Linked DNA regions of Homo sapiens. The protein of the gene in region 1 interacts with the protein of each later gene in a biochemical or structural test. Each region holds a gene or a part of one and is shown in the gene's direction. Other genes may lie near its edges.

The links. The genes of interacting proteins can lie anywhere in the genome.
Region 2: the proteins of CXCL17 (region 1) and CXCL14 form a complex in vitro, tested with the Homo sapiens proteins (one large-scale study listed by BioGRID and IntAct).
Region 3: the proteins of CXCL17 (region 1) and CCL25 form a complex in vitro, tested with the Homo sapiens proteins (one large-scale study listed by BioGRID and IntAct).
Region 4: the proteins of CXCL17 (region 1) and CCL28 form a complex in vitro, tested with the Homo sapiens proteins (one large-scale study listed by BioGRID and IntAct).

The regions. Positions count from the first base shown.
Region 1 is NC_000019.10:42,430,363-42,432,946, reverse strand, and holds part of CXCL17 (C-X-C motif chemokine 17 precursor), read left to right. Parts: intron 1-2,584. UniProt on the Homo sapiens protein: Chemokine that acts as a chemoattractant for monocytes, macrophages and dendritic cells. Plays a role in angiogenesis and possibly in the development of tumors. Acts as an anti-inflammatory in the stomach.
Region 2 is NC_000005.10:135,570,179-135,573,085, reverse strand, and holds the end of CXCL14 (C-X-C motif chemokine 14 precursor), read left to right. Parts: intron 1-1,217; coding exon 1,218-1,233; 3' UTR 1,234-2,407; downstream 2,408-2,907. UniProt on the Homo sapiens protein: Potent chemoattractant for neutrophils, and weaker for dendritic cells. Not chemotactic for T-cells, B-cells, monocytes, natural killer cells or granulocytes. Does not inhibit proliferation of myeloid progenitors in colony formation assays.
Region 3 is NC_000019.10:8,051,509-8,055,559, forward strand, and holds the start of CCL25 (C-C motif chemokine 25 isoform 1 precursor), read left to right. Parts: upstream 1-1,251; 5' UTR 1,252-1,255; coding exon of another isoform or gene 1,256-1,314; intron 1,315-1,491; coding exon of another isoform or gene 1,492-1,541; coding exon 1,542-1,614; intron 1,615-2,533; coding exon of another isoform or gene 2,534-2,604; exon of another isoform or gene 2,605-3,334; intron 3,335-4,051. UniProt on the Homo sapiens protein: Potentially involved in T-cell development. Recombinant protein shows chemotactic activity on thymocytes, macrophages, THP-1 cells, and dendritics cells but is inactive on peripheral blood lymphocytes and neutrophils. Binds to CCR9.
Region 4 is NC_000005.10:43,405,892-43,409,391, reverse strand, and holds part of CCL28 (C-C motif chemokine 28 isoform a precursor), read left to right. Parts: intron 1-3,500. UniProt on the Homo sapiens protein: Chemotactic activity for resting CD4, CD8 T-cells and eosinophils. Binds to CCR3 and CCR10 and induces calcium mobilization in a dose-dependent manner.

The DNA.
Region 1 (2,584 bases):
ACCAGAGTCACTCCGTGAAATCACTAGGGAAGAAGCACGTTGAGAATAGAAAAAAGAGGTGAAATTAAGACCAGGATAAGCACACAACTCAGCCCTTTCTACTCAATGTCACCTTGTCGGGAAATAGGAAGAGAGGAAAAGCAGGATACAATTTTCCTGATACTGGAAAGGTTTAACCAAATTCTTAGATTTTAAAACCTCACTGTTTACCAAAGTGGGGGTAGATGGGGCTGTTGGAGATCTGGTCATTAATCTCTGAAGATTACACCAGTGTCAGCATCAAACAGAATTTGACTCCTCCCTAGTCTAGCAGTTTTGTGTTTGTTATTTTGTTCTGTTTTTTGAGTAGGGGGTCTTGCCATGTTGCCCAGGTTGGTCTCAAACTCCTGGGCTCAAGTGATCCTTCCACCACAGCCTCCCAAGGATCTGGGGTTAGAGGTACACACCACCACACCCAGTTTAGTCTACCAGTTTTTAAGTGTCATATAAAAAGTAAATTGGCAGCCGGGCACAGTGGCTCATGCCTGTAATCCCAGTACTTTGGGAGGCCGAGGCAGGCGGATTGCTTGAGGCCAGGAGTTCAAGACCAGCCTGGCCAACATGGTGAAACCCCGTCTCTACTAAAAATACAAAAATTAGCGGGGCATAGTGGTGCATGCCTGTAATCCCAGCTACTCGGGAGGTTGAGGCACGCGAATTGCTTTAATCCGGGAGGTGGAGGTTGCAGAGAGTTGAGATCATGCCACTGCACTCCAGCCTGGGCGACAGAGTGAGACTCTGCCTCAAAAAAAAAAAAAAAAAAAAACTAAATTGGCAAATGTTAAACTGATTGATATTATGATATTATCAAGAATGGGATATATCAGGATCCTTATACACTATTGACGGAAGTAAAATAAATTTGGCTGTATCAAAATTGTAAATGAGTATAATAACTTTAGTAATCTTACTTTAGGAAATCTCAACAATGGAATACTAGCATGGATGCTCAAAATATAGGTACAAGAATATTAATTATAGCAGTATTTGTATTGACAAATAAATGGGGGAAATTTTCTTCAAAGGCAAATTGGGAAAAACTAATTACTGTCAAAAATAATTAAGTAAACCAGGGGCAGTGGCTCAGGCCTATAATCCTAGCTACTCAGGAGGCTGAGGCAGGAGGATCCAGTAAGCCAAGGAGCTCAAGACCAGCCTGGGCAACATAGCAAGATCCTGTCTCTAAAATAAATATAATAATAACAATAATAATAAAAATAATAATAATAATAATGAGATAAATCATTATGTGTTGGCTGGAGAGATATCCACAATATATTAATGAAAAAAAAATGATGTAGAGACCCCCTATTTCACATCCTTCATTAACGTAAGTTTCAGGTGGATTACAGATCTAAATTTGAAAGACAAATTTACAAGGAAATACAGGAGAATATATTCACAACCTTGAGGTATGAAAGCCTTTCTTAAACAAAATACAAAATGCACAAACCATAAAGTAAAAGAGTAAATAAATCTGACTTCACTGAGATTATGAAATTTTGATCATCAAAAGAATAAAATGACAAGCTGCCAAATAGGAGACGATATCTGTAACATACACAACCTTCAAAGGATTAGTATTCAGAATACATATATAAGGAATTGCTACAGACCAGTGAGAGGAGGGCAGGAAATACAACAGACAAACGGGCAAAAATACTTGAATAGCCACTTCACAGATGATGAAACCCAAACAGCTAATAAACAGATGCAATGGCACTCAACCTTATTATTACAAGGAAAATGTGAATTAAAACTAAAGTGAGGCCAGGTGCAGTGGTTCATGCCTGTAATCCCAGCACTTTGGGAGGCCAAGGCAGGGGGATCACCTGAGGTCAGGAGTTCGAGACCAGCCTGGCCAACATGGTGAAACCCCGTCTCTACTTAAAATACAAAAAAATTAGCCGGGCGTGATGGTGCACATCTGTAATCCCAGCTACTTAGGAGGCTGAGACAGGAGAATTATTTGAACCCGGGAGGCAGAGGTTGCAGTGAGCCAAGATCACGCCACTGCACTCCAGCCTGGACAACAGAGTGAGACTCCATCTCAAAAACAAAAACAAAAAAAATGGGGAGAGACATAAACATTCAGACCATAATATATACATAAAGTTTAAAAATGAGAAAAAATAAACTAAATTATTTAGGAATCTATACACATAGGTGGTAAATAATAAAGAAAAGAAAGTAAATAATTACTATAAAAGTCAAGATTATCACTGTGAGGGGGAGAGAAAGCAGTGATCAGAAAAGGAGGGGTGCTGTTGGCAATATTCTATTTCTTTCTTTCTTTCTTTTTTTTTTTTTTTTGAGATGGAGTTCTGCTCTTGTTGCCCAGGCTGGAGTGCAATAGCGCAATCTCGGCTCACTGCAACCTCCGCCTCCCGGGTTGAAGCAATTCTCCTGCCTCAGCCTCCTGAGGAGCTGGGATTACAGGGATGCGCCACCACACCCAGCTAATTTTGTATTTTTAGTAGAGATGGATTTCTCCATGTTGGTCAGGCTGGTCTCGAACCCCTGACCTCAGGTGATCTGCCTGCCT
Region 2 (2,907 bases), on another chromosome or scaffold:
AAGGAGGCACCCACAGGTCTAAACATGGCCCTGCTTTTTTTTTTCCTGAAAATTCCAATAACAAAAGCAACGAGAGCCTCTCACTACCAGGCCTTCTCTCACTTTGCTATAAAATTAGTTCACCCCTCTTTCTTAGAGTGTTGAGGTCCCTGCCCTCCCCACCTCCCTCCCCTGAAACAAGTTGAAAATATCTTAATGAACATAGAACAGTGATAAAGGAAGTGTTTGAAGTCCTCTTTGTACAGAGAGAGAGAGAAAGAGAATGCCAAAGCTAGGTTGGAGGAAGTAGAAGGGTATACGGTGGGCTCAGGCCCATGGGGGCCACACAGAGGAGCTCTGTGCACTTCAGAGACCAGAGCTTCCAGGGAGCTTCTGGCCACCACAGGAAGCAGCCTAGTCAGGCATTTTATTTCAATGGATAATTCAGTGGTCTTACTCAGAAATCAAGAACGAGACAGAAAAGTGATAGGCTAAGTGTAACGTATGGCCCCAGGGCAGCCATGGGGCAGAACTAGAAGAAAGCAAAATATCTAACTGGGCACAGCTTGAGAGGTGAGGGGAAGGTGGGGCTGGGAACGAGTAGAGATGAGGCAATGCAGCCAGGAGCAGGGACTGAGGGGCACAGGCCTCCTGCACCACTGCCCCACCCCACCAACCACCTCTTCTGTCTCCAGGAAGCAGCTTCTAGAGCTAGCATTCTTCTGGAGGACATGCATTATTTGGGCAAAATACAAAGAAATATACAAGCCTAAGTCAAGTAAGGGAATGCCTCCCACCCTTGCTATTTTCTCTAAATAGAGAGGCTGAGTACAGACGCGGAAAGAAACAAGGAGGTGTGGGAGCAGCCCGCCATGCTAGAGAAAGACTACATTCCTGCCACTAACAGTCGGTGGCCACTGGGCAAATCTTAAGTCTGTGGTGCCTCAGTTTCCTCATATGCAAAGCGGGTTTGTTCCATAGGCCTCTGAGGACAAAATGAGATTGCAGAAGTGAGATTGCAGATGGTTAGAAAAGACAAAGCCACACTGGTGTGAGTTTTCATGGTCCCCGGGACCACATCCTCAGAAGGATCCCTCCCACTTCTCCTGGGGGTTCCTGCAGTTCTGGGACAGGGGCATTCCCTGCAGACCAGACGTGAATGAAGCCGCTTAGCCAGCATCTTGTGAACGGCCTGCCTCATGTCCTGAGCCACTTACACATGTGTTTTTTCTCCCCAGGGTCTACGAAGAATAGGGTGAAAAACCTCAGAAGGGAAAACTCCAAACCAGTTGGGAGACTTGTGCAAAGGACTTTGCAGATTAAAAAAAAAAAAAAAAAAAAAAAAAAAAAAAAAAAAAAAAAAAGCCTTTCTTTCTCACAGGCATAAGACACAAATTATATATTGTTATGAAGCACTTTTTACCAACGGTCAGTTTTTACATTTTATAGCTGCGTGCGAAAGGCTTCCAGATGGGAGACCCATCTCTCTTGTGCTCCAGACTTCATCACAGGCTGCTTTTTATCAAAAAGGGGAAAACTCATGCCTTTCCTTTTTAAAAAATGCTTTTTTGTATTTGTCCATACGTCACTATACATCTGAGCTTTATAAGCGCCCGGGAGGAACAATGAGCTTGGTGGACACATTTCATTGCAGTGTTGCTCCATTCCTAGCTTGGGAAGCTTCCGCTTAGAGGTCCTGGCGCCTCGGCACAGCTGCCACGGGCTCTCCTGGGCTTATGGCCGGTCACAGCCTCAGTGTGACTCCACAGTGGCCCCTGTAGCCGGGCAAGCAGGAGCAGGTCTCTCTGCATCTGTTCTCTGAGGAACTCAAGTTTGGTTGCCAGAAAAATGTGCTTCATTCCCCCCTGGTTAATTTTTACACACCCTAGGAAACATTTCCAAGATCCTGTGATGGCGAGACAAATGATCCTTAAAGAAGGTGTGGGGTCTTTCCCAACCTGAGGATTTCTGAAAGGTTCACAGGTTCAATATTTAATGCTTCAGAAGCATGTGAGGTTCCCAACACTGTCAGCAAAAACCTTAGGAGAAAACTTAAAAATATATGAATACATGCGCAATACACAGCTACAGACACACATTCTGTTGACAAGGGAAAACCTTCAAAGCATGTTTCTTTCCCTCACCACAACAGAACATGCAGTACTAAAGCAATATATTTGTGATTCCCCATGTAATTCTTCAATGTTAAACAGTGCAGTCCTCTTTCGAAAGCTAAGATGACCATGCGCCCTTTCCTCTGTACATATACCCTTAAGAACGCCCCCTCCACACACTGCCCCCCAGTATATGCCGCATTGTACTGCTGTGTTATATGCTATGTACATGTCAGAAACCATTAGCATTGCATGCAGGTTTCATATTCTTTCTAAGATGGAAAGTAATAAAATATATTTGAAATGTACCAAAATTCTAGACTGCCACCTTTTTTCTATTTAATTAAGCTAGGATGACAATAAAATGTTTACCATGTCCTGAAAAAATAAGGACAAATATGCTGGGAAAGAAAACTGGTATTTCCCAAATACCTGTCAACACCATCACCTCTGTGGAACGTGTGGAGCTGTCATTACAGTCAGGAAGCCAAGAAGCCAGGCCTTGAGGCTAAGGCTCCTTCCCCGACGATTCCTACCCCTGCAGCAGGTGTATCAGAGCAGGCAGGTTGGAGCACAGGGAACTAGAGGGTCACGATCCCAGCCTCCTCCACGCAAGACCACACTGAGCCTCAGCACCAGAGGGCAGCAAAGAGGCTGGATGCCTCAGCCAAGGGCTCTCCAAGTTCCCTGGGGCTGCATAAGGACGGCAACAATAGAGGACTGGTGTAATTATTGCCTACTGTGAGCCAGACCCTGTGCGGGGAGCCTTACATGCCCTATCTCTTTGAATCCTGGTAACAACCACAACGGGGGT
Region 3 (4,051 bases), about 34 Mb from region 1:
TTTTTTTGAGACAGAGTTTCACTCTTGTCGCCCAGGCTGGAATGCAGTGGCCCAATCTCGGCTCACTGCAACCTCCGCCTCCCGGGTTCAAGCGATTCTCCTGCCTCAGCCTCCTGAGTAGCTGGAATTACAGGTGCCCCCCCACCACACTCGGCTAATTTTTGTAATTTTAGTAGAGATGGGGTTTTGCCATGTTGGCCAGGCTGGTCTCGAACTCCTGACCTCAGAGGATCCGCCTGCCTCGGCCTCCCAAAGTGCTGGTATTACAGGTGTGAGCCACTGTGTCCGGCCACCGTTTTTTTTTCCATTTTTTGAGACAGGGTCTTGCTCTGTTGCCCAGGCTGGAGTGCAGTGGCATGATCACAGCTCACTGCAGCCTCAACCTCCAAGGCTCAAGCAATCCTCACACCTCAGCCTCCTGAGTGGCTGGGACTACAGGTATGCACTACTACGTCAGGCTAATTTTTTAAAAAATTTTTGTAGTGACGCAGGTCTCTCTATATTGCCCGGGGTGGTCTTGAGCTCCTGGGCTCAAGCAATCCTCTGGCCTCGGCCTCCCAAAGTGTTGGGCTTACAGACATGAGCCACCATGCCTGGCCTAGAGAGTTTCTTTCTTGTTGGGGTTGTTCACCGGTGGGAGGTGCACCATTGTGCCGTGCTGACTATATTCATAGAGTTATGTAACCATCACTCTCATCTAATTTCAGAACAAAAGGAAACCCATACCCTCTCACAGTCAGTCCTTCATTCTCCCCTCCCCCCATCCTGTGGCCACCGCTAATTTACTTTCTGTTTCTATGGATTTGCCTGTGATCACAACCAGAGGATTTCTGTGACATGCTAAGTTACCTAACCATGGTGTGGAAGGAGAGGGAAATGGAGTGAAGTTGGGGACCCACCAGGGAACAGGTGGCTTGAGGGCGGGGGGAGCATGAAGGTAAGGGCTTGTTTGGGGGCTCAAGGCAGTCTGAGCCTTGTTCGCAGGCAGCCAGTGTCCACCAGGTGTGTGCAGGTGAGGGAAACAGGGGAAAAGGCCCTTTCTGGAGACAGTAGGGGTGCTGGCTGGGAGGCCTGGGATGGGGAGTGGGGAGGCAAGGGGGCCTGTGGGTCGAGGTTGGAGCTTGCTGTAGAAGAGGGAGAATTCCAGAGGCTGAGAGTGCAGGTGGAGAGGAGGAGGAAGGGAGGAGGGCGGGCAGGGGGTGGCTGGGTGGGGCTCTGTCTATAAAGAGTGAAGCTCAGCGTGTTGGTCCTGCAGATGGGACAGCTTGGCCTACAGCCCGGCGGGCATCAGCTCCCTTGACCCAGTGGATATCGGTGAGTCTTTTCCTTGAACATGACTGAGATGAACAGCTTTTCCCTCCAGCACAACTTGTTCCTACTTTATACAACCTCCTTCCCTTGCCATATGCCTGGGGCTTAAGAGGGGGGATGTTCCCAGTACCCACTCCCCTCCTCTTCCTCAGTCCTTACCACTTCCCTCCACGACCCCAGGTGGCCCCGTTATTCGTCCAGGTGCCCAGGGAGGAGGACCCGCCTGCAGCATGAACCTGTGGCTCCTGGCCTGCCTGGTGGCCGGCTTCCTGGGAGCCTGGGCCCCCGCTGTCCACACCCAAGGTACTGTGTTCGGCAATGCCTACCACCAAGTGCCCCTCTCCCCATGCCCCCACCCCACCCCTTTTGTCTCTTATCTCCTCCGGAAGTCTCCCCAATCCCATCTCCACTGAATTCTCCCGCTCCTGACATGCAGGAACTCCTGGTGTTTGGTTAGCTCTTGGGATGGGGTCGGGGAGATGGAGAGTCCCCAGTTCCTTCTTCGAGAGCCCCATGGAGTCTTTTGCAAGACTCCTAAAGATGTGAGGGAGCAGAGGGTGGCTTCCAGCTGTGGGCAAAGCCAGTTACTGCCAGGGATGTATTGTAGAATCCTAATCCTGCCGAGCCAGGGGTGGGGTTGGAGATCAGGGCCCTGGAGACTGACAAGAGTGGATTCCCATCCTGGTCCCTCCATGCAGTCCAGCTGAGAGTTAGTTGCTCCTAAACCATTTTTTTTTTTTTTTTTTTGAGACAGAGTCTCACTCTGTCACCCTGGCTGGAGTGCAGTGGCGCGATCTTGGCTCACTGCAACCTCCGCCTCCTGGGCTCAAGCGATCCTTCTGCCTCAGCCTCCCAAGTAGCTGGGACTACAGGCGTGTGTACCATGCCCGGCTAATTTTTGTATTTTTTAGTAGAGATGGGGTTTCACTATGTTGGCCAGAGTAGTCTCGATCTCCTGATCTCAGGCGATCCGCCTGCCTCAGCCTCCCAAAGTGCTAGGATTACAGGTTTGAGCCACTGTGCCCGGCTTCCTAAACCTTTAGGAGCCTCCGTTTCCTCAGCTGCAAAGTGGGAATCTAAAATTCCCACTGCATGGCTCTGACTTGAGGGTCCAGTGAGCTCATGCCTGCAAAAGACTAGGCCTCATGTCTGGCGGCGGCAATAGTAACTGTTCCTGTTATTAATAGGGAACTCTTTCCTTCTTCCCCACTCCCTACCGCAGAGCAAGCACTTGAGGATTTCAGTCGCCAAAGGACAATTCCTGGGCCTGGGGTGTCCCCACGGGAGCCCTGACACTGGGTCCTACATCCTCTGAGTTTCAGCAGCTGGCCAAAGCAGGGTCCCTGGCTGGGCGGCAGACCCAGGGTCCCACCCTCCTTCCCTGTCTGCCCCCACCTGACCCACCTGCCCCTCGGCTGGGTCTGATGGGTCCAAGTCCTTGGCCTTTGCCTGGGAAGGGGGTTGGGCTGTGGTCTGATTGTTTTGCTATCAGAGCCAGGCCCAGCCCAGCCCTTCGATCCTGGCCTCCAGCCTTGGGAACTACCTGCCTGGCACTGCAGTCCGAGGTTCCAACAGAATGCGCTGCCCCTTGCCCTCAGAGGCCGCGGTTGGGAGACACCTGGAGGGCTCGAGTCCTCCCTTTCCCTGCTCCTGCTGGGCTGGGCTCTGCAGGGACTCAGACTCGGCCTCTGGAGGTTAGTTCTGGCAGAGGTGAGATTGCAGAGAACTCCAAAGGCCATTTAGGCAGAGAATTGCACCCCAGCTTCCTCCACTATCTCATCAGCTCATCCTCGGCTCATTCATTCCACCTGCTCATCCCCCCAGAACTTTCTGGCATCACCTCCTCCTCCTCTGGGCACCCCCCACAGTGCCTGTGCTTCCCCCTTTCTGCAGAGATCAGTTTCCCGGGAGCTCCCTGAAGACAACACTAGGTCTAATTCATCTGTGTGTTTCATCTCTGCTTGTCTAGACATTGACATTTACTGAGAGCTCTTTACTTTGTATTAAAACAATTTTTTGTTTGTTTGGTTGGTGTTTTGTTTTGTTTCATTGAGACAGAGTTTTGCTATTGTCGCCCAGGCTGGAGTGCAATGGCGTGATCTCGGCTCACTGCAACCTCCACCTCCTGGGTTCAAGTGATTCTCCTGCCTCAGCCTCCAGAGTAGCTGGGATTAAAAGCGCCCACTATCAGCCAGGCACAGTGGCTCACGCCTGTAATCCCAGCACTTTGAGAGGCCAAGGCGGGTGGATCACAAGGTCAAGAGATCAAGACCATCCTGGCCAACATGGTGAAACCCCGTCTCTACTAAAAATACAAAAATTAGCTGGTCGTGGTGGCGGGCGCCTGTAATCCCAGCTACTCGGGAGGCTGAGGCAGGAGAATCGCTTGAACCCGGGAGGCAGAGGTTGCAGTGAGCTGAAATTGAGCCACTGCACTCCAGCCTGGGTGACAGAGTGAGACTCTGGAAAAAAAAAAAAAAAAGGCGCCCACCACCATGCCTGGCTAATTTTTGTTTTTTGTTTTGTTTTGTTTTGAGACGGTGTCTCACTCTGTCGCCCAGGCTGGAGTGCAGTGGCGCGATCTCGGCTCACTGCAAGCTCTGCCTCCCGGGTTCACGCCATTCTCCTGCCTCAGCCTCCCGAGTAGCTGGGACTCCAGGCGCCCACCACCACACCCGGCTAATTTTTATATTTTTAGTAGAGACGGGGTTTCACCGTGTTAGCCAGGATGGTCTCAATC
Region 4 (3,500 bases), on another chromosome or scaffold:
TGCAATGGTGCAATCTCGGCTCACTGCAACCTCCGCCTCCTGGGTTCAAGCAATTCTCCTGCCTCAGCCTCCTGAGTAGCTGGGATTAGAAGCGTGCACCACCACACCCAGCTAATTTTTGTATTTTTAGTAGAGACGGGGTTTCACCATGTTGGCCAGGCTGGTCTCAAACTCCTGACCTCAGGTGATACACCCACCTCGGCCTCACAAAGTGCTGAGATTACAGGTGTGAGCCACCATGCCCAGGCACACCTGGCTAATTAAAAAAATTTTTCTTGTAGAGATAGAGTCTCACTATGTTGCCCAGACTGGTCTTGAACTCCTGGCCTCAAGCAAGTCTCCTGCCTTGGCCTCGCTGCCTGTAATCCCAGCAATTGGGAGAATGAGGCAGAAAGATTGCTTGAGCCCAGGAGTTCGAGGCTGCAGTGAGCCATGATCGCACCACTGCACTTCAGCCTGGGTGAAAGAGTGAGACTCTCATTTCAAAAAAAAAAAAAAGTAAAAAATTACCAAAAAAATAAAATTACCAAAAATGTCACAAAAATTAAAGAATTTATCCTAATATTATGAAAGTTACAAATACTTAGTGTATTTTCAAATATAAAAATTTAAAGAATTAAAAAAAGGAAAGTCCCTCTTCATCATTCCTTTAATCCCTCTCCCCTCTCCAGAGGGTTCTGCATATCCTTCCAGAATTTCCTCTATGCATTTAGCAATGTGAACCCACACATACATCCACACCAATTTTTTTTTATTATACTTAAAGGTCTAGGGTACATGTGCACAATGTGCAGGTTTGTTACATATGTATACATGTGCCATGTAGGTGTGCTGCACCCATTAACTCATCATTTACAATAAGTATATCTCCTAACGCTATCCCTCCCCGCTCCCCCCACCTTACGACAGGCCCTGGTGTGTGATGTTCCCCACCCTGGGTCCAAGTGTTCTCACTGTTCAATTCCCACCTATGAATGAGAACATGCGGTGTTTGGTTTTCTGTCCTTGCAATAGTTTGCTCAGAATGATGGTTTCCAGCATCATCCATGTCCCTACAAAGGACATGAACTCATCCTTTTTTATGGCTGCCTAGTATTCCATGGTGTATATGTGCCACATTTTCTTAATCCAGTCTATCATTGATGGACATGTGGGTTGGTTCCAAGTCTTTGCTATTGTGAATAGTGCTGCAATAAACATACATGTGCATGTGTCTTTATAGCAGCATGATTTATAATCCTTTGGGTAAATGCCCAGTAATGGGATGGCTGGTCAAATAGTATTTCTAGTTCTAGATCCTTGAGAAATCACCACACTGTCTTCCACAATTGTTGAACTAGTTTAGAGTCCCACTAACAGTGTAAAAGTGTTCCTATTTCTCCACATCCTCTCCAGCACCTGTTGTTTCCTGACTTTTGAATGATTGCCATTCTAACTGGTGTGAGATGGTATCTCATTGTGGTTTTGATTTGCATTTCTCTGATGGCCAGTGATGATGAGCATTTTTTCATGGTCTGTTGGCTGCATAAATGTCTTCTTTTCAGAAATGTCTGTTCATATCCTTCACCCACTTTTTGATGGGGTTGATTTTTTCTTGTAAATTTGTTTAAGTTCTTTGTAGATTCTGGATATTAGCCCTTTGTCAGATGGATAGATTGTAAAAATTTTTCTCCCATTCTGTAGGTTGCCTGTTCACTCTGATGGTATTTTCTTTTGCTGTGCACAAGTTCTTTGGTTTAATTAGATCCCATTTGTCAATTTTGGCTATTGTTGCCATTGCTTTTGGTGTTTTAGTCATGAAGTCCTTGCCCATGCCTATGGCATGTATGGTATTGCATAGGCTTTCTTCTAGGGTTTTCATGGTTTTTGGTCTAACACTTAAGTCTTTAATCCATCTTGAATTAATTTTTGTATAAGGTGTAAGGAAGGGATCCAGTTTCAGCTTTCTACATATGGCTAGCCAGTTTTCCCAGCACCATTTATTAAATAGGGAATCCTTTCCCCATTTCTTATTTTTGTCAGGTTTGTCAAAGATCAGATGGTTGTAGATGTGTGGTATTATTTCCGAGGACTCTGTTCTGTTCCATTGGCCTATATCTCTGTTTTGGTACTAGTACCATGCTGTTTTGGCTACTGTAGCCTTGTAGTATAGTTTGAAGTCAGGTAGTGTGATGCCTCCAGCTTTGTTCTGTTTTGCTTAGGATTGTCTTGGCAACGTGGGCTCCTTTTTGGTTCCATATGAAGTTTAAAGTAGATTTTTCCAATTCTGTGAAGAAAGTCACTGGTAGCTTCATGGGGATGGCACTGAATCTATAAATTACCTTGGGCAGTATGGCCATTTTCATGATATTGATTCTTCATATCCATGAGCATGGAATGTTCTTCCATTTCTTTGTATCCTCTTTTATTTCATTGAGCAGTGGTTTGTAGTTCTCTTTGAAGAGGTCCTTCACATCCCTTGTAAGTTGGATTTCAAGGTATTTTGTTCTCTTTGAGGCAATTGTGAATGGGAGTTCACTCATGATTTGGCTCTCTGTTTGTCTGTTATTGGTGTATAGGAATGCTTGTGATTTTTGCACATTGATTTTGTATCCTGAGACTGCTGAAGTTGCTTATCAGCTTAAGGAGATTTGGGGCTGAGACAATGGGGTTTTCTAAATATACAATCATGTCGTCTGCAGACAGGGACATTTTGACTTCCTCTTTTCCTAATTGAATATCCTTTCTTTCTCCTGCCTAATTGCCCTGGCCAGAACTTCCAACACTATGATGAATAGGAAGGTGAGAGAGGGCATCCCTGTCTTGTGCCAGTTTTCAAAGGGAATGCTTCCAGTTTTTGCCCATTCCGTATGATATTGGCTGTGGGTTTGTCATAAATAGCTCTGATTATTTGGAGATACGTCCCATCAATACCTAATTTATTGAGAGTTTTTAGCATGAAGAGTTGTTGAATTTTGTCAAAGGCCTTTTCTGCATCTATTGAGATAATCATGTGGTTTTTGTCATTGGTTCTGTTTATATGCTAGATTACGTTTATTGATTTGTGTATGTTGAACCAGCCTTGCATCCCAGGGATGAAGCCCACTTGATCATGGTGGATAAGCTTTTTGATGTACTGCTGGATTTGGTTTGTGAGTGTTTTATTGAGGATTTTTGCATCGATGTTCATCAAGGATATTGGTCTAAAATTCTCTTTTTTTGTTGTGTCTCTGTCAGGCTTTGGTATCAGGATGATGCTGGCCTCATAAAATGAGTTAGGGAGGATTCCCTCTTTTTCTATTGATTGGAATAGTTTTAGAAGGAATGGTACCAGCTCCTTCTTGTACCTCTGGTAGAATTCAGCTGTGAATCCATCTGGTCCTGGACTTTTTTTGGTTGGTAGGCTATTAATTATTGCCTCAATTTCAGAGCCTGTTATTGGTCTATTCAGGGATTCAGCTTCTTCCTGGTTTAGTCTTGGGAGGGTGTATGTGTCCAGGAATTTATCCATTTCTTCTAGA